Homo sapiens: one gene and its partners. The protein of the gene in region 7 purifies or fractionates together with the protein of the main gene of each other region. This does not show direct contact. Each region holds a gene or a part of one and is shown on either strand. Other genes may lie near its edges. The genes, in order: PPARA, KSR1, TEAD4, USP9X, METTL17, ATF1 and AMOT.

The links.
Region 1: the proteins of AMOT (region 7) and PPARA purify together in Homo sapiens (co-immunoprecipitation; one large-scale study listed by IntAct). This does not show direct contact.
Region 2: the proteins of AMOT (region 7) and KSR1 purify together in Homo sapiens (co-immunoprecipitation; one large-scale study listed by IntAct). This does not show direct contact.
Region 3: the proteins of AMOT (region 7) and TEAD4 purify together in Homo sapiens (co-immunoprecipitation; one large-scale study listed by IntAct). This does not show direct contact.
Region 4: the proteins of AMOT (region 7) and USP9X purify together in Homo sapiens (affinity purification with western blotting; 3 studies listed by BioGRID). This does not show direct contact.
Region 5: the proteins of AMOT (region 7) and METTL17 purify together in Homo sapiens (affinity purification with mass spectrometry, with the first as the bait; one large-scale study listed by BioGRID). This does not show direct contact.
Region 6: the proteins of AMOT (region 7) and ATF1 purify together in Homo sapiens (co-immunoprecipitation; one large-scale study listed by IntAct). This does not show direct contact.

The regions. Positions count from the first base shown.
Region 1 is NC_000022.11:46,153,526-46,157,025, forward strand, and holds part of PPARA (peroxisome proliferator-activated receptor alpha), read left to right. Parts: intron 1-3,500. UniProt on the Homo sapiens protein: Ligand-activated transcription factor. Key regulator of lipid metabolism. Activated by the endogenous ligand 1-palmitoyl-2-oleoyl-sn-glycerol-3-phosphocholine (16:0/18:1-GPC). Activated by oleylethanolamide, a naturally occurring lipid that regulates satiety.
Region 2 is NC_000017.11:27,620,448-27,623,691, reverse strand, and holds part of KSR1 (kinase suppressor of Ras 1), read right to left. Parts: intron 2,500-3,244; coding exon 2,419-2,499; intron 1,764-2,418; coding exon of another isoform or gene 1,757-1,763; exon of another isoform or gene 379-1,756; coding exon 300-378; 3' UTR 1-299.
Region 3 is NC_000012.12:3,018,397-3,021,896, reverse strand, and holds part of TEAD4 (transcriptional enhancer factor TEF-3), read right to left. Parts: intron 3,353-3,500; coding exon 3,309-3,352; intron 2,783-3,308; coding exon 2,727-2,782; intron 1,264-2,726; coding exon 1,124-1,263; intron 54-1,123; coding exon 1-53. UniProt on the Homo sapiens protein: Transcription factor which plays a key role in the Hippo signaling pathway, a pathway involved in organ size control and tumor suppression by restricting proliferation and promoting apoptosis.
Region 4 is NC_000023.11:41,091,945-41,095,444, reverse strand, and holds part of USP9X (ubiquitin carboxyl-terminal hydrolase 9X), read right to left. Parts: intron 1-3,500.
Region 5 is NC_000014.9:20,992,980-20,995,257, reverse strand, and holds part of METTL17 (ribosome assembly protein METTL17, mitochondrial isoform 2 precursor), read right to left. Parts: intron 2,141-2,278; coding exon 2,067-2,140; intron 1,290-2,066; coding exon 1,195-1,289; intron 716-1,194; coding exon 645-715; intron 465-644; coding exon 357-464; intron 94-356; coding exon 25-93; intron 1-24. UniProt on the Homo sapiens protein: Mitochondrial ribosome (mitoribosome) assembly factor. Binds at the interface of the head and body domains of the mitochondrial small ribosomal subunit (mt-SSU), occluding the mRNA channel and preventing compaction of the head domain towards the body.
Region 6 is NC_000012.12:50,818,882-50,821,662, reverse strand, and holds the end of ATF1 (cyclic AMP-dependent transcription factor ATF-1), read right to left. Parts: intron 2,029-2,781; coding exon 1,884-2,028; 3' UTR 501-1,883; downstream 1-500.
Region 7 is NC_000023.11:112,778,332-112,781,831, forward strand, and holds part of AMOT (angiomotin), read right to left. Parts: intron 2,788-3,500; coding exon 2,555-2,787; intron 2,458-2,554; exon of another isoform or gene 2,387-2,457; intron 1,350-2,386; coding exon 666-1,349; intron 334-665; coding exon 236-333; 3' UTR 1-235.

The DNA of each region.
Region 1 (3,500 bases), on a different chromosome or scaffold from region 7:
GTGGTTTTCATTAGCTCCTGTTTGTCAAACTTATGAACAGAGTTTTAAAAATTGTGTATCAGCCGGGTGCGGTGGCTCACACCTGTAATCTTTGGGAGGCTGAGGTGGGCAGATGACAAGATCAGGAGTTTGAGACCAGCCTGGCCAATATGGTGAAACCCTGTCTCTACTAAAAATACAAAAATTAGCTGGGCATGGTGGCGGGTGCCTATGGTCCCAGCTACTCAGGAGGCTGAAGCAGGAGAATCTCTTGAACCCGGGAGGTGGAGGTTGCAGTGAGCTGAGATGGCACCACAGCACCCCAGCCTGGGTGACAGAGCAAGACTCCGTTTCCAAAAAAAAAAAATTGTATATGAGAGAGACAGAACTAGACAGAGAAGAAGGAGAAAATGTGTCTTCTTTATACACTATTTTGTAACTTGCTTTATCGAGTAGGTTATGAAAAATCTTCCTATGTGAAAAACATTTCTGCATCATTTGAAATGTCTATATAATATCCCATTGTGTTTAGATACAATAATATTTAGCCAATCTCTTTATGTGTATATATTTAATACAGTCATTCTATAAATATTGACTGAGTAGCTGCTGTGGGCTACTGTCCGCAGTGCTGAACAAGACAAGCATGAATCCATGAAACTGATTTTCATACCAGAATATAAAAAAGAAACTTAAAGATAATCCTCATCATGGTAAAAGATGAAGAACCTATTTTTGCCGGGACATCTTACTCTTTAGTAATTGGTGGCCAGTGTTCTTTTTCTTGCATGCTGTTTTGGAGAGTCTGTTTTTTAAATAAATATTTAAGTAGCCTGGGCGCAGTGGCTCACGCCTATGGTTTCAGCACTTTGTGAGGCCGAAGGGGATGGATTGCTTGAGCCCAGGGCTTCAAGACCAGCCTGGGCAACCTGGCGAAACCCTGCATCTACTAAAAATACAAAAATTAGCCAGGTATAGTGGCGTGTGCCTGTGGCCCCATCTACTTGGGAGGCTGAGGTGGGAGGATCCCTTGAGCCTGAGAAGTGGAGGTTGCAGTGACTGAGATGGCACCACTACACTCCAGCCTGGGTGACAGAGTGAGACCTGGTCTCAAAAAATAAATAAATATTTATGTAATCATCTTTAAGCAGTGTTTTTAATTTTATTTATTTATTTATTTATTTTTGAGACAGGGTCTCACTGTGTCACCTAGGCTAGAGCACAGCTGCATGATCACGGCCTATTGCAGCCTCGACCTCCCTGGGCTCAGGTGATCCTCCCACCTCAGCCTCCCAAGCAGCTAGGACCACAGGCACACGCCACCAGGCCTGACTCATTTTTGTATTTTTTGCAGAGACGGGGTCTTGCTATGTTGTTCAGACCTGTCTCAAACTCCTGGGCTCAAGCCATCCTCCTGCCTCGGCCTCCCATAGTGCTGGGACTAAGCCATGAACCACTGCACCCGGCATAAGTGGTCTTTCTTTAAAAAAAAAAAAAAAAAAAAAAAAAAAAAAAAAAAAAAACCACATTAATTAAAATATGTATTTGCTTATTATAAATATATTTGAAACATGCCAATTTTTCTTCTCTTTTTTTGCTCTATTGGTTTCTGTGTGTGGATGGATATATTTTTAATGGCAAATAGGATGAGTGTCTTTACTTCCAAGTAGTCAGTGTTTTTCTTTAATGTTTGTACTAATTTTGTCACATTGCAGTTAGAGGTTGTGGCCTGTCTAATTTCTGCTTTTTTGGAACTTGAGAGTCTCTGTTTTTATTTGTTTTTGGTAGCCTGGCATAGAGTCCATTTTTCTTTTCTTTTCTTTTTTTGAGACGGAGTTTAGCTCTTGTTGCCCAGACTGGCGTGCAGTGGCGCAATCTCAGCTCACTGCAACCTCCGCCTCCTGGGTTCAAGCGATTCTCCTGCCTCAGTCTCCCCAGTAGCTGGGATTACAGGTGCCCACCACCACACCTGGCTATTTTTTGTATTTTTAGTAGAGACGGGGTTTTGCCATGTTGGCCAGGCTGGTCTCGAACTCCTGATCTCAGGTGATCCACCCGCCTCGGCCTCCCAAAGTGCTGGGATTACAGGTGTGAGCCACTGCGCCCAGCTGTAGATACTTTTTAAAAAGGTATAGTTTCTGATTATGGGGTAGAAATGTGCTATGTCTGTCATTTCAGCCTTATGAATTGCCCAGAATAAGCTAGATCACCTTTAAGGCCATGTGGTTAGGGAAACTTGGGCACAGAATTTACATTTTCAACTTGGTGATAAGATGGGTTTAAGGTAAGAATCAAATAGGAGAAAGCCTTAGCTGTTCCAGCGGCCCATGTTTAAAAGAATGTGCTTCTTTTTCCAAGTATTTCTGCCGCTTGCATGCACTGAGCTTCTTTGGAAAGGAGCACCATGCAGGCATATTTTCCAGACAGGACCGGATTTGCTCGTTACTCAGAGGTGTGTGCATTCTTTGCTTTTAGGATATTTAATTAGCATCTTTTAATAGTGATATTACGGTGTCTTAAAAGTTTATGCATTTGAAAAGAAAAGAACTTACTCCTTGCCAGGTCTCAACCTATCATGGTTATCTTTGCAGCTGAGCTGCGTTGGTTTTGAGGCTCACATATGGTAAAAGTGGTTGGAAATCTGGAAATATTGCTGTGTATCTGCAAAGCAGCTTGATATAGTGGAAAAGGTATTAGGTCATTAATCATGAGATTTGGATTCTAGCCCCTTAGCTGCTGCCTGCCAGGCCTGGAGACCTTTGTTCTCTTCTTTAAACTGCTGCTTTCTCATCAGAAAATGAAGTTCCTCTCCATACCACCTCTCTGAAGGGCTGTGAAGCTCGAAGTGGCAGCTTAAAAAACTGCCCATCTCAGGAGGTGTCTTAAGAAGGAGGACATACCGCTGGCTCCTGCCTTTCTCACTTAGCCAGGTCTGATACCTGTGTTGTTTTCACTGTGGCCATTTTAGGATTTTTCAAAGGCTTTCAGAAAGCAACATGCTACCGTACCCCTTATACACCAAAACTGGTTTTCATTTTGGAATATAAAAGTGAGATTTCTCCACCAGTACAATAAAGTTGTTACAAGTGGTTCCTATGTGTTTGTTTTTGTTTTTGAGACAGAGTCTCACTCTGTCACCCAGGCTGCAGTGCAGTGGCACAATCTTGGCTCACTGCAACCTCCGCCTCCCGGGTTCAAGCAATTCTCCCACCTCAGCCTCCTAAGTAGCTGGGACTACAGGCACCCGCCACCACGCCCAGCTAATTTTTGTATTTTTAGTAGAGATGGAGTTTCACCATGTTGGCCAGGCTGGTTTTGAACTTCTGACCTCAGGTGATCCACCTGCTTCAGCCTCCCAAAGTCTTAGGATTACAGGCGTGAGCCACCACACCCGGCCTCCTGTGTGTTTTGAAGGTGATTGTGACCTCAGGTTTTGGCAGGGCTATACCTTGTGTTTGCTCTTACTCCAACTCCATGGCATACCTGGACCAGGCCTCTTCATCTTGAAGAGGGATCTGCTG
Region 2 (3,244 bases), on a different chromosome or scaffold from region 7:
GCACAGACTGTTTTTATTATTACCTATTGTAAAACATCAGGTTCACTCAGGAGAAATATACGTGTAAACATTTGCTGTCTGTCATGACAGGTTTGGTTGTTGGTGGTGTCATTTTAAGAAATAGCAGGTGCAGCTCCATCTCCCGAGTGGGGTTTATGGCCAACAGTCTGAATCTAGGACGTGTGCTCCTGGTTTGCAGCGCTGGGCAGGCAGTGTTTTTTTGTCGTGGTGGTTGTTGGGATGTTTCAGAAACACATTTTAAAAAGAAAGAGATCAGCAGCGAAAAACCATATGGCTGGCTACATCTTTGGATTACTGGACTCCAGGACGCCCAAGCCAAACCTTTCAAACCGGGGTACAACTTTGCTGCTGTTAATGCTGCAAAGAGGAACAAAAACAAGAATTATAGCCCCATTGATCTTCATCAGAATTAGGGTAACACTAGCTAGGAAATGAGTTCAGCAGAGGACCTGGCCTCCAACAAGAAATGAAAATGACTGATTGGCCAACAGCCCTGGCAGAGCTGCCCCTGGTCATACTGCGTCCAAGGCCTCAGCTACACTCCAAGTAGTCCTACTTGGAGCAGCAACGGTGGCTCATTCATCTCCAAGTCCCAAGCTCCCAGCATGCTCAGTACTGCTGTGGGTTCCTAGGAATTGTTTTCTCATTTGCAGCCCAGGAAAGCTCTTGCTCCAAGTAGAACTGAGAGAGAAGAGAAACATGACTCCCAGGATACCAGGAGTGACAGGGCATGTTCCTTTTAGCAATAAACTCTAATACTGGGGTGCATCAGGGCCACCTGGGAAGCAGGTTGAAATGCAAATTCCTAGGGCCCCATTCCAGAGATCTGGGTTCAGCAGGTCTTGCTGGGGAGGGAGAACAGAAACCTGCATTTGGTAAACAGTGCATTGACTGCCACAGGGGACTCAGCAGCCATGCTCTTGACAAATGCTGACCTGGGGTCTGGTCTATGGTACACTGGGCAGCTGTAAAGGAAGTAACTTTGCCAGGGTGGCAGGGTGGGGACGGGGCAGAGACTTTGTTTTCATCAGAAAAATTGTCTGGAGCCAGGTACCTCTTTGCTTTAAGACAATTTTTCTGAGGGTGCCACTGAAGACACAACCCTTCCAAGCTGGTATCTTTCATGGCCACAGAACTTTCTGTGTCTTCTGATCTAACTCTACAGAGGGGACTGAGACAGGAGCCAGCGCAGAGGGTTCCTGTGACCAGGGTGCCAGCCTCAGGGCAGCTCTGAAATCATTCCACTCCTTGTTGGACAAAATCCCCACAGGTTAAAAGCCAAGCCAACACCCTCCCAACCTCCGCCCGCCCCGCACTAGGCACACACCCAGTGGGAGGCTGGTGTGCTCAGGAGGGTGGAAGGCATCTCACTAAGGTGTTAGCAGTGAGACAGAGCCACCCAAACAAAAACAAGACCAGCCCTCAGAAGAACACGGGAGCAATCAGTCATGTCCAGGAAGGTAGTTAGAAGCTGCCCAGACTGCCTTGGAGGGAGCTCAGTTAGTGGGATCCTCTGAGAGCAGTTACTTGGGCATATGCAGGCCACGTGGAGAGGGCAGAGGGCCAGTTTTTAAAACAAAGCAAAAGAAGTAGCCTCGAGAGAGACGACTGGAGCAGCAGAGGTGGCATCCCCTGGGTTAGTGCCCGCATCTCATTTTGCATTTTAGCAGAAGTCACGGTGCTGAGTTGTTGATTAGGAGGAAGAAAGCCCCTGGTGCATGCAAGGCAGCCAGGCCTACAACCTACAGAGGGAAAGAGAAGAAAGCAAAGAACAGCATCAGAATCATAGCCCCAATGCAGAGCCTGTCGGGAGCTAGAGGTCTGGCCAGAGCAGCTGGGCAGGGGACTCCCTTTCTCTTCCAGAGAGAAAGGGCCATCCTGGACTCCATCCCCCAGGCTTGGCTGCACTGCATGCTCAGAAGGGATCCTGGGCACAAAGAACCCTCTCTAAGCTCCCGCAGGGCACAGTTGCAGCACGTTTATAAAGAGGATGGAACATGCCCACAGCTCCTTAGCCCTTGACGAGTAAAATCTACTTCCAAGAGTATTTCTGCTTAACTGGATTCTCTTCTCTTGAGCTCTGGCCAGGGGGACTGGGATCCTGGGGGCTCAAATCAATGACCAGAATTTTCTCCGACCCAGGGACAAGCCACCCATTCACTCATGGTGTGGACAAAGGCCCCGCCACATGCTGTGGCTCTTCTCTCACCCAGCGAAAAATGCAAGCCTGTGTGACCCTTGCTGGAAGCCATTTCAGCTGCAGAAACCTCACTTTGGTTTGCGAGAATAAATGACACAAAGATGGGAGAAGCTGGGAAGCGGCGACAGAAAGGAAGCAGGGCTTGTGTCAGGAAAACCAGAGACAGGCAGCCAGCGAAGGAAGTAACAGGAACACACTATTCCTCCAGAATCGGACAGGAGCTCTTAAAGTCAGGGTGGCCGTAGCGTCCTTTTCCATAGTAGCGGCTCCTCCAGCGACTGGGAGTGCCCAGCGACCATTCCACCAGGCGTGGGAAGAGCGCAGTCCGGCCCCGGCATGTGATGGAGTCAGGCACGTGTGGACAGGTGGAGGAATCAGGTGATGGGAAAGTGGGAGATGACAGAACAGCACATCCGCCACCCCCCGAAAATAAAAAAGTGACAAGATCAATGGAAAGAAAAGAGAAAGTGAGAATTAGGGGGCAAGCGTGTAGAAAGTAAACACTGTGAACAGGAAGCTTTGACACAGACTCATTCAGGAAAGGAAAGCCCGCATGCTTTCCTCGAAGGGGCTGGGCAGGGAACAGCCCCATCTGTGACTCAGTTTCCTGCCTGTGAAATGAGAAGGTGGGACTATATGGTTTTTGGGGAATCTGGAATGATGTTCTGAATGCCAGTGTCCACCTAGTGGAGCCTTTTCTTTCGTCACGGAGAAAACCAGGGCCCAGCTTGTTAAGCAAGTTGCCCACGGTCTGATTAGAGCTTGGCCTCGCTGCCTCACATCACCCTCCTTGAACTGCTAAGAGCCCCATGCTCCTGGTCTCTGCTGGGATAGTTCTGGCTCAAAACCCAGCCCTGACGACCTTCTTCCAGAGACTCTTCCTCCTGTCCCCCAGGTGGATGCAGAGGCCCCCATCTGGGCTTTATCACAGCACTTGGCATGGTATCACCCTTTGCTCACATTCATTCATGCACATTAAATATTTAGTGCCCAACTATAATGTTCCTGGGACTGTACTAGGAG
Region 3 (3,500 bases), on a different chromosome or scaffold from region 7:
TCGCTGTAGCTTGGGCTGGACTGGCCAATGTGCACGAACAGGTGCTTGTTGTACTGTGGAGAGAGTGGGTCTGAGGGAGACGGAGCACAGGCCAGACGGTCAGACAGACAACCCTGGCTCTGCGTGCCCACCACGTGACCTGGTGCAAGCCGCTTGGCCTTTCTGGGCCATAGTTTCCCCATGAGTAAAATAGAGATGGTAAAAGTCTACTCCTTTTGTTTTACATCCTGGACTTCTAAGTAAAGGTCTATTTGGTTCATGGGTTCCTCAGCTAAAAAGAAGTCTGAGCCGGGTGCGGCGGCTCACACCGGTAATCCCAGCACTTTGGGAGGCCGAAGTGGGTGGATCACTTGAGGTCAGGAGTTCAAGACCAGCCTGGACAACATGGTGAAACCCAGTCTCTACTAAAAATACAAAAATTAGCCAGGTGTGGTGGCAGGCACCTGTAATCCCAGCTACTCCGGAGGCTAAGGCGGGAGAGTCGCTTGAACTCAGGAAGTGGAAGTTGCAGTAAGCTGAGATCATGCCACTGCACTCCCAGCCTGGGTGACAGAGTGAGGCTCTGTCTCAAGAAAAAAAAAAAAAAAAAGAAGTTTGAAGATGTCAGAGTGAGAAGGGCCCTGGCATCCTGTCACCTTGGCCTCCTCCAGGTCCCCCTCTGACCTTTGCAGGTGACGCTGGTCACCCAGGACACTGGACACCGAAGGGGACAGGCTGGTATCCCATAGGATATGGAGCAGACACAGGAGACTCCTCAGCTTCCTGCCCGCTTCTCAGAACCAGAGAGAGGCTGGGACAGTGTAGGGGTGGGGCTGGGACCAGAGCAACCTTGGACTAAGGGTCGGTTGGGTTAGGAGGGGAGGAGGAACACAGGACAGGGAGGGAGGAGCGTGACGCTGACTGGGCGCTGGGACACGGAAAGGAAGCCAGGGAGGAGGGAAAGAGGGAAGAGGGGTGACGTGAAGGAGGAAAGGAGGAGTGGGGGGAAGGGCAGAAGGGAAGATCGGAAAGGAACAGGGAACTTGAATTAAGCCCCAGCATGGAGTGGGGCAAGACTGCCGGAAGCAGAAACAGAGGGAGAGGGGGTGACCAGGGAGCTGGACAGGCAGAGGCCAGGACCTACCGTGTCCGGGTCCTGCTGCTGCTCCAGGAAGGCAGAGAACTCCAACATCCAGAGCTTGGAGCTGGCCACGCTGCGGCCCTGCCATGGGGGTGCCGGGGGCGCAGAGGGCGATGGGGCGGGCCCTGCAGGAGACTCAAACCCTGCACAAAGTGAGAAAGGCACATGGAACCTGGTCACGGACACCCGCCCTGCCCGCACCCTCTGCAAGGACCCCAGGCCTCCTCGGACAGACCCGTGCTGCCTGGGGGGACCGCCTGTCTCCCTAAATGGACCTCCTAGCAGAGGTGGTGGAGGGAGTGCCAGGCTTGGGCCAGGGCATCCTGGAGCTGCCCTGGTGGGGAGGGGCTCGCCTGGTACAACTCGGGCCACTCAGCACTCTGCATGGAACCGCCGAGCAAGACTGGATTCTGGAGGGCAGCTGGGGCCCTGCAGGACCGAGAGGCTTCCAGAACAGGCACTGTTAAGTTCCTGCCCTCAAGCAACTTCTGTTCCAGTCGGGGAAATAACCAGATGAATCCACTATTACAATATGGCATCATCCCGGAGAGACGGGGACGTTTCCTGTTTGCATCACATGTGTCTCCCCCGCTCCCAGAACAGGGCCTGGCCCAGAAGAGCCCCTCAATCCAGCGTTGCTAACAGATGAACCTACTCCAGTCCTACTGTAGTTTAGATCGTGTCCTGAAGGCACCAGGGGGCCAGGAAGGCACCATAAACCTGGAAGCAACACCGTGAGACTGAAGCTCTGGTGAGTGACAGGGTGACGAGAGGAGGTGAGACGGGACAGCGAGCCGGTGGAGAGGCTGCTGCAGGAACGCAGGCAAAAGCCAGCAGGCCTGGAGTGAAGACATGGTCAGTGTGGACAGAAGACTGGCATGAGACAGAGGGTGGACGGGACCTGACGCTGTGACTTTGTTTTGATGTGTGAACGAGAGAAAGCAGCCTTCAGGACCTGGGGGACAGAAGGCAGCAGGGCTGCTCTTGGTGGCAGGGAAAGCCAAGGGGCCGGGCAGGCAGACTCCACACCAGAAAGGGCAGTTTAAGAGTGAGGAGCTGGTCTTGTCCTACAGAGTGGGAGGTGGTGAGGGCCCCTCCTGAGAAAGAGACGAGGACAGAGCAGAGCCTGTCAGTGAGAGGGCGGGGTGGGGGCTCCTGTCAGCACCGCTGGCTGCCTCCACCAGGTCTTCTCCCACAAGGGTCCCTCTTCTCGGGAGGGGCTCCAGGCTGGTGAGCTAGACACCCCTCGGCCCTCCCAGGACCAGGTGTGTGAGGCACACTGCAGTAACAAGGCCGGCCAAGTGGGGCAGCCGCCAGGGCACGGGCACTGCCCTTGGAACTGCACGTGCCCCACAAGCCCTGAGCACAGCTTTGAGGGGACAGGAGCAAGGCAACCCGAGGGGCATGAAGGGGCTTGGCACACGGCTGAGGTGTGCATGCTGGGGGAAAGGAATGGGGTGTGGCCAGGGACTAGGACGTGTGGTCAGTGTGCATGACGGGGCAGCATCTAACAGGGACACGCAGGCGTTCGGCTGCCGGGGGCCTGGACCCAGAGGCAGGAGCCACATGGCTGCGATAGAAAGGGGGCCACGCAGCGCCCACCCACCTGGCAGAGGCAGCGGAGGCTGGACAGCATAGGTTTGCTGAGAGAAAGGCTTCACACTGCGGGAGAGAGAGGAGGGGAGGTGTCAGCCTCGGGCAGGCCACCGCCCCGGATCCCTGCACTGGGTCCAGTGGTCTGTGTGGTAGGTCCTGGTGGTCTGGATTTCAGTGGTCCCGATGGGCCTTGGCCTCCTACTCCCGCCCCTGCCGACTCCCCTGGGTTTCGTGGCGGGTCCACAGACACAGCGTGTCTGCTGAAGAAATCCACCCCTCCCTCTCCTCCTCCCAGGCCAGCCAGAGGTCTGCTTCCCAGCCTCCTCCCCTGGGGGACCCCAGCTCTGGCCCTGCCTATACCCTGGACAGACTGGAGTTTTGGCAAATACCACCCTAGGGTGTAGACATCACAGATGAGCCCAGTGATGGCTGACAGTAGAAGAGCCCAATCCCTGAGCTCAGAGCCATCCTGAAAGGCCGACCCCAGCAGCGGCCCCAGCACACCCTGGGGCCCAGGCTTAATGCCATGAGTTTATGGGTTCAAGTTCAGTTCAGGGAGCAACTGGCAAGAGAAACCAGAGGCCATACTCACTCATGGGACGTTCCGGCTTGGCCTGGCAAAGCTCCTTGCCAAAACTGAGGAGGCAAAAGGCATGGAATCAGCACGGCCCCAGGTGCACCCGGGGCCCTGTGGTGTGGGGGTGGGGGTAGGACCGGGCAGGGCCTCCACTGGGAGGAGAGGCTGGAGCCCGAGGCCTCGCCTAGCTAGTGAATGCTAACAGGC
Region 4 (3,500 bases), about 72 Mb from region 7:
GGTAGAAGCCAGGGCTGAGTAGGACAGCACCTCACAACAAAGACTTATCTGCCCCAAACTGTCAATAGGGTTAAAAAACCCTGCCTGATCTCAAGTTGATCCCTCTGACCGGAAGTCCCTGCTCTAATTAATAGGGCCATGAAAATAGGACATCTTTGAAGACCTCACCCAATGCCAAACAATGATTTCTCCATCTCTCCTACTACACTTTTCACACCTCCACTTAATACAGCTGTAATTGCACTGTATAACTGTCTGGTTCACCATACTTCAGAGCCTTGAAAGCAGAGAATCATCTTTATATACCCTCTGGTGCCTAAAATGGCACAGGTTGAGCATCCCTTATCTGAAAAATCTGGAATCCAAAATGCTCCAAAATCTGAACTTTTTTTTTTTTTTTTGAGACGGAGTCTCGCTCTGTCACCCAGGCTAGACGGAGTGCAGTACCGCGATCTGGGCTCACTGCAACCTCCACCTCCTGGGTTCAAGGGATTCTCCAGCCTCAGCCTCCTGAGTAGCTGGGATTACAGGTGCACACCACCATGCCTGGCTAATTTTCATATTTTTAGTAGAGACGGGGGTCTCACCATGTTGGCCAGGCTGGTCTCGAACTCCTGACCTCAAGTGATCTGCCCGCCTCAGCCTCCCAAAGTGCTGGGATTACAGGGGTGAGCCACCGCGCCTGGCCCCAAATTTCGGATTTTGAATTTTCACTCACCCGCAAGTAATATTCCAAATATTCCAAAATATGGGGAAAAAATTACAAAATCGGAAACACTTCTGATCCCAAATATTATGGATAAGGCGTACTAACTGAATCTATATTAAATCAATGAATTCAATTCAATCACAGTAAGGTAGCACTGACATGATTCTCCTTCCCATAATGCACCGAGGATAACAAAGCAATCCTCAGCTGACATTGATATGGCTCAGATAACGACATGCACTGACATCAGACAAGAAACACACCAGGCACGGTGGCTCACACCTGTAATCCCAGCACTCTGGGAGGATGAGGCAGGTGGATCACCTGAGGTCAGGAGTTCGAGACCAGCCTGGCCAACATGGTGAAACCCCATCTCTACTAAAAATACAAAATTAGCCGGGTATAGTGGCACCCACCTGTAATCCCAGCTACTCAGGAGGTTGAGGCTGGAGAATCACTTGAACCCAGGAGGCGGAGGTTGCAGTGAGCCGAGATCACGCCATTGTACTGTAGCCTGGGCAACAAGAGTGAAACTCCATTTCAAAAAAAAAGAAAAAAGAAATACACCTGTAGTCACTACAGTAGGTTCCTCCTCCAACACTCAGTCTGGCCCCACAATCCCTCTTGCCTCAGCTCAGCATGCTCCAAGTCAACTCTTAAGAATCCTGGATAATTAATTATATCTACAAAGGACACAGTAAACAGATAATATACACACTAATTAAATGAGTAAATGAGATTTTCTATATTTTCAAAAGTCTGGACAAATGCTGTACATAGCCAGTATCCTCCTTTCACATTCCCGAAAATGTGAGAGAAGTCAAAAATTTCAAAAACGACAGTCACCTTTTTAGGGGTTTTTCCCACTCACAGAGTACAGAAACTTTTATTTCTAATTATACCCTCACCTTTCAAATGTAAACTTCATCATACATTTGCCTCACTTAATTCCTATTTCATTCTAATTATTGCATTCACTATTTGCACAAAGCCAACTAACCTAACCAATGAGCACAACCTAATCCAGTAAGGTTTAAGATTCATATCCCTAACCAGTTCCCTCTGTCTCAAGGATATTTAAGACCTCCAGGTAGGCCAGGCATGATGGCTCATGCCTGTAATCCCAGCACTTTGGGAAGCCGAGGCAGGCGGATCACCTGAGGTCGGGAGTTCAAGACAGCCTGACCAACATGGAGAAACCCCAACTCTATTAAAAATACAAAATTAGCTGGGTGTGGTGGCGCATGCCTGTAATCCCAGCTACTCAGGAGGCCGAGGCAGGAGAATCACTTGAACCCAGGAGGCGGAGGTTGTGGTGAGCCGAGATCGCGCCATTTACTTTTTTGTTTTCTGCTCATTCTTATAAAAAGGCAAAATACATCTGAACTTGCACATAAACACAAGATACTGCCGTACAAATACAGCAAAGCTGCTGAAACCAAACTATTCTCAGGCAATACCACCTTGCAATAAAAAGAAATCCCTTTCATCAGCTAATGTACAGAAGTTTGAACCTGACTTAAGGAAAGGAGGTTCAGAGTTGTTAACATATAGTGTATCAAATAGGAGGTCAAGCACAGTGGCTCAGGCCTATAATCCCAGCAACACTGGGAGGCCAAAACAGGAGGATTGCTTGAGGCCAGGAGTTTGAGACCAGCCTGGGAAACACAGTCAAACCCCTGTTCTCTAACAAAAATTAACCAGGTGAGGTGATGTCGGCCTGTGGTCCTACTTACTCGGCAGGCTGAGGTGCGAGGATGCCTTGAACCCAGGAATTCCAGGCTACAATGAGCTATGATTGCGTCACCACAATCCAGCCTGAGTGACAGCGAGACCCCTCCTCTTAAAAAAAAAAATCACTGCTCTTAACTAGGGGCTGGCAAACTATGGTAACAGACCAATTCCAGCCTCCTGTTTTTGTACAGCTCACAAGGTAAGAATGGATTTCACACAGAACGTCTGCAATCAATTTGATGACAGGGAACACTGAACTTTACCCAATAAAGCAAAATACTGTATTACCTCCCCTCCACACACACACACCAAATTGTTTTTCTCATTAGACCTAAGTTATACATAACTGTATTTAATTATATTTTTTATTTCACCAATAAAAATTTTACCCAATGTCCTCAATTTTGCCTCTTAGCCCACAAAGTCCAAAGTATTTACTATGTGGCCCTTTACAGAAAAAGTTTACTGATCCCTGTGCTCTGAACTCCAGAGATGTTACCAAGCAGAGCAACCAAAACTTTGTACACTACACCTCGACCAGAGAGAAAACACTGTTAGGCAGAAATGGGTTCAATACTATACGGTAACTTCCATGCTCTCTGGGGTCCAAGTTAATAATGAGCGGCCTTACTTAGGAGTTCTAAGTAACCAGTTAACAGAAAAGACTAGAAATGAGAGATGTAACCAACAGCCTCAACTTATAACTCTCAATAGCCACCAAAGTCAGCAGGAATAAAATGGACATCAAGGATACTAACAGGAGGCTTCGCCACTCCCTTTTTCCTTTCCACCCAATTCACAGGCTCTGTAGAAGATGGGATCTAATATGCACGATCACCAGCTCAAACTCATCCCAAGGAAAACAATTCCTTTGATTATGGTTGACTAACATGGTGTTCAAAGCTCACATGATTAATAAGAATAAACTGTAGGGTGCCATAAAATGAAGATGAATCAATTCTGTACAAGAGGTTGGAGGTACTGCAAGTTAAATACTGCCCCAGATTTTCCCATTCAGGTAATCAAATGGTTATTATAAACAGTATTATTCTAGGTG
Region 5 (2,278 bases), on a different chromosome or scaffold from region 7:
GAGTGAGGGAAGAAGAAGCCTTACCTTAAGGACCAGATCCCTGGCATCCATGAGAAGGCTGTGCCCAGCTTTTGTTCCATTCTCCACCAGTACCTGTTCACAAAAGGGGAAAATATGCAGAAGACTTGAATTACACGAAAGTATAAATGTCAGTAGCTGTGTAAGAGCAATCATAGAGGGAGAAGGAGTCCTAAAAAGAAATAGGCATTACATAATCAGGATGGAGACCCTCAAAGAGGGATAAAGAAACCCATGAAGGAGAAAAATGGTGAAGAATAAAGACAATGAGAGGAGCAAAGGCATGAAATCCATGAAGCTGCTTCAAGACTTAAGGAGAACAAGGAATTTTAACTCACCAGGAAATGACCTGTCTTACGCCATAAGGTTTGAACTACCTCAGTGCGGTCAGCCTTGCTGGGCAGTTCACTTAAGGAAAAAGCTGACACTACTACATCAAACTGCACCTGAGGACCAAGACAAGGAACATGACAGACTCAACATCTCTACATCCCAAGAATACAACAAAGTCCTAGCCGCTAAATTTCTTTTATCTTCTAACACTCAGTGCTGGGCTGCAAAGCTCAAGCCATAGTTTTCCATCTGCCACATTCCACATTTAGAATATTCTAAACACTGCCACTTGCCTTGGGTGATACAGGTAGAAACTGTCTGAAAAAGACACCTGGAATATAAGGCTCCCCAGATTCTGAACCACCTGTGGAGAAAAGAAGAGGCAACTGTGAGTGTGTAGGAAGTTAGGTATAAACTGAAGAGATATCCAGATAAGAAACATGGCCCCAAGAATAGGTAAAGTGTATATCAAAAAGGGCAGGGATGAGCCAGGTATGGCGGTGCGTGCCTGTAATCCCAGCTACCCTAGAGGCTGAAGTGGGAGGATGGCTTGAGGCCAGGAGTTTGAGACCAGCCTGGGTAACATATGGAGACCCTACCTCTAATTAAAAAAAAAAAAAAAAGGGCAGGGAGAATATTAGGCCTCCTGTCCTTTGATTCTTACCCAACCCATCCTCAGTCCAGCAGAAACCTCTAATACCACCCTTTGCTTGACTATAACTTTAAAAGTAAACCAGATTCATCTTAATTTTTACCCTCTTCTCTACTTCCCAGTAAAACACTTTTACTAGTACCCCTTTGCTTTCTTAACTCCCTCAACTTTGGAAGTGCTCTTGCACTCACCTTTCAGTAGTTTTTCTGCCAAAACCAACATGGCAGCTGATCTGTCCACACACATATATTCACGTAGGCTCTGGCCCCAAATACTGTGAGCAGCCCTAAGATGGCAAAATTATTATAAATCACCAATTCCCATGACCAAGAGTCATCTCTACAAGAGGCCCATTTACACCCAACCCCACCCCTGGGAAAAGAGAGTGTTATGTTAAAGTAGTTGTATAGTTAGTAATAAAATAACTAATAGTGTTATTTTCTTGTTTTATTTACAACTCCTAAAAAAAAAAAGGTAGACTCAGCTGGGCACAGTGGCTCATGCTTGTAATCCCAGCACTTTGGGAGGCCAAGGTGGGCGGATCACAAGGTCAGGAGTTAGAGACCAGCCTGGCCAATATGGTGAAACCCCGTCTCTACTAAAAATACAAAAATTAGCTGGGTGTGGTGGCGTGCACCTGTAGTCCCAGCTACTCGGGAGGGTGAGGCAGGAGAATCACTTGAACCCAGGAGTGGAGGCTGCAGTGAGCCGAGATTGTGCCACTGCACTCCAGCCTGGGCGACAGAGTGAGACACCGTTTCAAAAAAGAAAAAAAAAAGGTAGACTCAAAATACTATTTGTAGGCAAAAACAACTTTGATTGATAATTCCTTTTCTTTTTAATTTTTCTACACATGCGCCTTTTTTTACTTGACATTTCTTTTAAGTTCTGGCCCCAATCCATATACCTTCTTCTGCCTTGCCTAATCTGATGGAAGAAACATTATAGATTCCCAACTTGCCTATTCTCCCTCTGGTTTTCCAGTCTGTTAATTTTGGAGTGGTGTAAGTATGGCTTTCTAGAGCTAAAATTGACCAAGATAGGGCTGAAGAAAGTTACTCACCAGGTGACAGAACCAGTACCTGAGCCAAAGTCCATCAAAGTTTGTGGCTGAAATGCTGGATTTCGAGCCCGGATCTGAAGAAATATACAACATCCCACAGTAGGGTAATTAGATACTTATTTAGGACCTTGATAAATGTGAATTAGGAGGCTATCACAGAGGATGTGAGATGTGAATGCCTTTTGAGATTCAATACAAATACCTTATGGGAT
Region 6 (2,781 bases), on a different chromosome or scaffold from region 7:
ATTTATGGAACCATTAATGGTTTGCCCTGACCTGTTTCATACAGCTAGAGTAAGTAACTGGGTCTAGTTAGCAAGGCCCTACACCAGAAGTCTGAAGGCAGCAGAGTTTACAAATATTTGCAGATGTCCAGCTGTTAAGGCACTAAGAGCTAGGCTACCTCTGTTGTAAACAAGCACGGTGTCTACCCAATAATATATTATCATCTGTTGAAAAAGTCTTTTGACATAACCCAGTGACCTCATACCTCCTCATATTCTTAGGCCTAACGGGCCACCAGTTTGAGATTCTGGCTTTACACAAGGTAGTAAGTGATATAAGTAATCCCCCTGGCGATCAAACTTTTTTTTCTTTTCATAAAGTGCTGCCAAGTCAACAGAGTCCCATTTTAAAAGACCCTTCTAATGAGAAATTTCATCAGGAGGGTCAAACACAAATGTATCAGTTAAGTGAAGATTTCTACGTAGCATTAGGATAATTAACAGCATGGCCAGGAGCAAGCTTATCATTCATATACCAAGCATTATATTTTACATTCAGTAGACTATCAAATGTCCTTTAATTTCACAGACAACAATATGATGCATACTGTGTAAGAGCACACAATAGTTTTGCAGTACAATTTTAAACTGTATACAAATTGGAATATAGATGTTAAACGCTGGTGTACTGACAGTATTTTTGAATTTTAGATAAACTGCATACAAAATTTACAATGCAAATATTAGCCAATCTGAAAACGTCCCATAATATAAAAATGATACTTTGAGATGCAAATTTTACTAAACTATATAAACATTTAAAATAATCATTAAAAACTCAACATTAGAATTTATAAAGATCAGCTATAAAAATATATTGGCAGTCACTTTTCTTATAAAGGTACCACTCACTACATTACAAAATAGTCTCTAACATAAAATTGCCTTAATAACTATACTATTATAGAATCTGATAAACCTTACATTATTAAATTGATTATAAAATCTTCTTGGAAAAACTTTGGTATGTATCTTCAGAAGGTTTTTTAAAAATAATATTTTAAGGGCCTGTAAACATTCCATTCTATTAAAGCACAGCAGAATAAGTAATGGATATTCAACTGCATACAGAATATAGACTCAAAAAAACAATTTATTATGTATTTGTAGAAAATCATTACCAGAGTAAGCAAAAAAACCAACTATTTAAAAGTATCAAACTTTTAAACAGTTCTTTTTCCATTCTGATAAAAAATGTTATAAAATCACCATACTCCATTCATGTACCTTAGATGCCTTTTAGGATAAGACCTCAAAAATAATTAACCTAGTCTCAAAAATCCATTCAAGTCCAATAACAAACTTTTAAAAACCCACTTAAAAAGACTTGACACTAGAACAAGTATACATAATCAGAACATATACTTTATATATTTAGTAATGTACTAGGTTTTCTCTTACCTTTGTAATTTAGAATTTATTGGCAGAAATTACACACACACACACACATATATATAACTAAAAAAAGGTAAATTTCAGCAAACAAATGCAAACCTGTAGGGTAAATGGATTTTTAAAAAAAATTCAGTTTATCAAATTTCATCTTCTCTGCCATTTTAGATTGGCAACTATTGGTTATTTAGAAAATTTAGACTGCTGAAAGTTCATTTCTTGCTCCTTGAATATGTTTAATTTCTACAAAGCTTCCAGTTGTGCCCGTAGCTTCCTTGAGGTCATTTTCCACTTTCTCCTCTGTCACTAGATATCGTGCGTAAGATATTTATCCTTGATTTGGAAAAGCCTAAATAAAAAGCTTCAGTTTTGACCTTTTAATTTATAAAACTCCACTAGGAAATCCATTTAATTTTTATGCATGTCCACAAAAATATTTTCTTTCTTAGGAATCAAACACTTTTATTGGAATAAAGATCCTTCAAAGTTTTTAACTCTTCTATTAGAGTTTTATTTTGATTTTCCAGGACTGCAACTCGGTTTTCCAGGCATTTCACATATTCTTTCTTCTTTCTGCGACATTCTCGAGCAGCTTCTCTAAATATGAGCATTAAAAAAACAATGTTAGAAAAAACTTCACATTCTTTAAATGGTAAATGTTCTTCAGTAATTTTCCGTGGTCACCTTTTTTTCTCTTTAAAGTATCATCTACACACAGAGAATACATAGATCTTAAGTGTAGAATTCAGTCAGTTTTGGCAATTGTGTATACCTGTATAACCCACACCTCTGTCAAGACAACAGAACATTCCCACTGTCCCAGAAAGTTCCCTCATGCCCCTTCCTGGTCAGCCCCCTTCCAAGCAACTATCGTTTTGATTTTTATCACCAGAGATTAGTTTTTTTCCTATTCTAGAACCTCATGTAAGAGTGTCATACACTATGTACTCTGGTGTCCCTTCACTCAGCCCATCTGAGGTTCATCCATGTTGCTGCATGGGGGTTTGTTCCTTCACACTGCTGGACATAGTTCACTGTATGAATATAACCACCATTTGTGTATCCAGTCTCTTGCGATGTTTCTAGGGTTAGCTGCATAGGCATGTTTTTGTGCCAGTCTTTTTGTAGAAAGGTTTCATTTCTCTTGAATAAATACCAAAGAGTGAAATTATGGGTCCTCTGGTTAACTTCTGACACATGACTTCTTTTATTTAAGTTCAAATTACAAACAATGCTTGAGCAAATACTCAGTTCTGTGCATGTCCTCTTAAAACATTTCTGTGAAGTCATATGTAAGTTTATATACATATAGAAATCGGAAGTATTGGCCAGGCATGGTGGCTCATGCCT
Region 7 (3,500 bases):
AAGCTTTAGAGCACATTCTGATTAATCTGTCTTTAGAGGTACTCCCTAAGCATACCAAAATAGACTGGTGTTCACATGGTATTACTCAAGTAGTACATTGTTCCAATAAAAAGTCCTGTTAAAAAACATCCCCTCCCCACAACCCTTGTCCTCACCCTCAAAACAAGAACCAATAAAAGGGGGAAAATGATTAAAAGCATTTTTGCTGATAATCTGCAGCTCTTGATTTGGCCGTTTAGATGAGATATTCCACCATCTCTGCATCAGGCTCTTGTCCCAGGATCTGAATGGGAGTTTTTCTTTCCAGAGTATTGGAGTGGAACACAGGCCCATCTAAATGGAAATAAGGGTTAGAAAACACTTAGGGATGAAGAAAAAACCCATATTTCTAGAACCAGACACCATCAGAGCCCTCATGAAGCCAATGGCAAAGTGAGACTTGCCTGCCACCTCCCTCATTTACTTCTGCTAAGATAATGGCCTCTACTCATGCCTGTTCCCATCTTGGTGGATGAGAAGTCATTTACAGACTCTCTTCTCTCTCCTTTAGAACGTGAAAAACTCAGTCCAAATGATAACTCTGCCCAGACATCAGACAACAAGAAATAAATCTGTATTTGAGAGCAGAACTAAACCAAAACCTACCTGCTAAAGGGAATAATTACCTGTTTTGTCTGGATTGCAGGTCAAACTTGGTATAGACAAACGATGTGGTCCAGGACCGGTAGCTGGACTTGCAGGAACCTCAGCCTGAGCCACAGCTGGAGTTGGAGTTGGAGCTGGAGTTGGAGCCACAGCCGGAGCTGAAGTTGGTGCCTGAGTCTGAGCAGGAGCAGAAGCCTGAGCCGCTGCTGGAGCTGGAACCGGAACCAGAGCCGGAGCTGGAACTGGAGCCGGAGCAGCTGGAGCAACCTGAACAGCAGCAGCAGCAGCAGCAGAAGGAGCAACGGCAGCAGCTGAGGCAACAGAGGCAGCAGCTGGAATCTGACCAGCAGCAGCTGGAGAAACAGCAGCAGCAGTAGCAGCGGCAGTGGCTGGAGACGGGGCAGCAGCAGCAGCTGGAGCAGCAGCAGCAGCAACAGCAACTGGAGCAGCAGCTACCATGGTGGTGGTGATGGTGGCAGCAGTGGCAGTGATGGCGGCAGCAGTGGCGGCAGCAGCAACTGGAGCAGGAACAGAGATGGGAGCAACAGCTGCAGTTTTGTTCGATTCCGTCCCACGTTCAGTTTGGGTACTGCAGTCTCGGCTGCCTGTCTTGGAGTGAGCCGAGAGCAGGGGAGTCGAGGGTGGCACAGGCGAGGGTGTGGAAGGGACATATTCAGCACGGTAGTCTCCACCCAGGAGAATGCCTACAAATGAAAGAGGAACAGATGTTAGAAAACAATAGGTGATTCAAATCCAGACATCTAATTACCTGTTCTCCCATTCAAATTTCAGAAGAAATTTATTTATTTTTAAATAAGTAAATATTATTTAAATATTTAAAATATTATTATTTTTAAATATTAAATAATTTAGAATAGTCTAAGTTATTTATTTTTGCCTCCAGGGAACCCAGAAATCAGTGTGTGAGGCTCCTCCAACCATGGCTAAAAGTTTCCTACAGACTTCGAGGATCCCTTCTGGTCCTCATCCATCACCTGGCACAACATATTAAGCCTGTAAGTGACCTGGGTATCTGTTTTGATTTATTTTTCCAATGGTGATTGGGTTCCACCAAGTTGTCAGAATGCTCCTACTCGGCTCCACTTATAAACCATTACCACACGTTACCAGGGAGCAAGAAAGGATCTGGGGAAGAAGTCTGTTGACACAGATTGAGTGTGGTAATAATTGTGTGATCTGAGGTTCTCACCATGACCATAGTCCCCAAAATGCTTATTCTAACCAAAAGATATTACAAGTATCAGAGGACCAAGAAAGGAATTAACAGCAACAAAAAGGGTTAAAATAAAAATATATATAAGCTTCCTTCCTCGGGCTCTAAAAATGTGCCTCGTGGTATCCACAATATGTCTGGGGTTTTGATTAGAGGGGAGGGAATGGACAGGAACGGAATGAAAAAGTACATTCTGTTCTCATCTCACAACACTGTGGGAACAAAACCTGCTACCCAAACGATTTAGTGTAACTAAAACTCTGGGTTCTCCTATTATAGAGGAGGAAGGAACACAGAAATGCCGGAATTTTGACATTTGGAACGACACAAAGGCCACATGGGCTTTGGAGAAAGATAAAGGTGCCACATGGCAAAGGCCAAATCTGAGAATAGTTTAGAGGAAATTAGAGTTATCTTCCTTGACACCCAAATGAAACTCAAGATTCTTGTCCTCTAAGCCTTGGCCTCAATCGGTATTCTCACCGGGAGACTTCAAAGTGTGGAGGAGCTCCAGAATGTGGAACTAGGGTCTCAGGAGGAAAAAAAAACTCCAAAACCCTGGTACACCTTCCTCTCTAGAACCTGGACCATCATCCCTTTTCCTTAAGCATGGGTGCTTATCTCAGGGCTCTCTTTGAACACGTGACTATAATCTTCCTTATTTACTGTCATTACCTAGGCTCCCCTTCCAGCTCTTGTCGTCTCGCTTTTCTTCCATGATGGGGGAGCCAGTCAGGGTGGATGAGTGGGAGAGCAAGCCTGATCCAGCATTGGAAATGGACATCAGAGACTTCGCTGGCCGCATGCACGACAGCTGCTCTGTCTTGCTCGGCTCCTTCCGGGAACGCTGCTGGAGTACTTTGATCATGGCATCCTTCTCAATAATCTGGGCATGGAGGGTCTTAATCCTAGGAGCCAAAGGCAAAGAACATATAAAGACCTTGTTGTGGGCTGGGCGCGGTGGCTTACGCCTGTAATCCCAGCATTTTGGGAGGCCGAGGTGGGCGGATTGCAAAGTCAGGAGTTCGAGACCAGCCTGGCCAACATGGTGAAACCCTGTCTCTACTAAAAACACAAAAATTAGCTGGGTGTGGTGGCAGGCGCCTATAGTCCCAGCTACTCGGGAGGCCGAGGCAGGAGAATCACTTTAACTTGGGAGGCGGAGGTTGCAGTGAGCCAAGATAGTGCCACTGCACTCCAGCCTGGGTGACAGAGCAAGACTGACTCCATCTCAAAAAAAAAAAAAAAAAAAAAAAAACCTTCTTGCTACCTCCACATTTTGGTCTAATTGACTACATGACTACGTGGAGCTCCCATTATCTTTTCGACTAAAGGCTGATCTAGTTAGTTCTGAGTTGGAAAACAAGGGATGGTGTGCTACAGTTTTTAAAACATGTTTTTTCTTTTTTCTGCACACCCAAATGGATACAGCAGAGCATCCAGGAGCTGTTGCTTAAATCTTAGTAAGTCACAATAAAGTACCAGTGAAAAAAAAGGCTGAATATGAGAGAATGAACTGATGTACTAGGTGCTGTAGTGAAGAATCTCAGTCAATGGAAACAATTTACTCAGTGAGAAGATGAGATCTATGAATGAGCGACAACCTGCAGGTAGTAAGTAA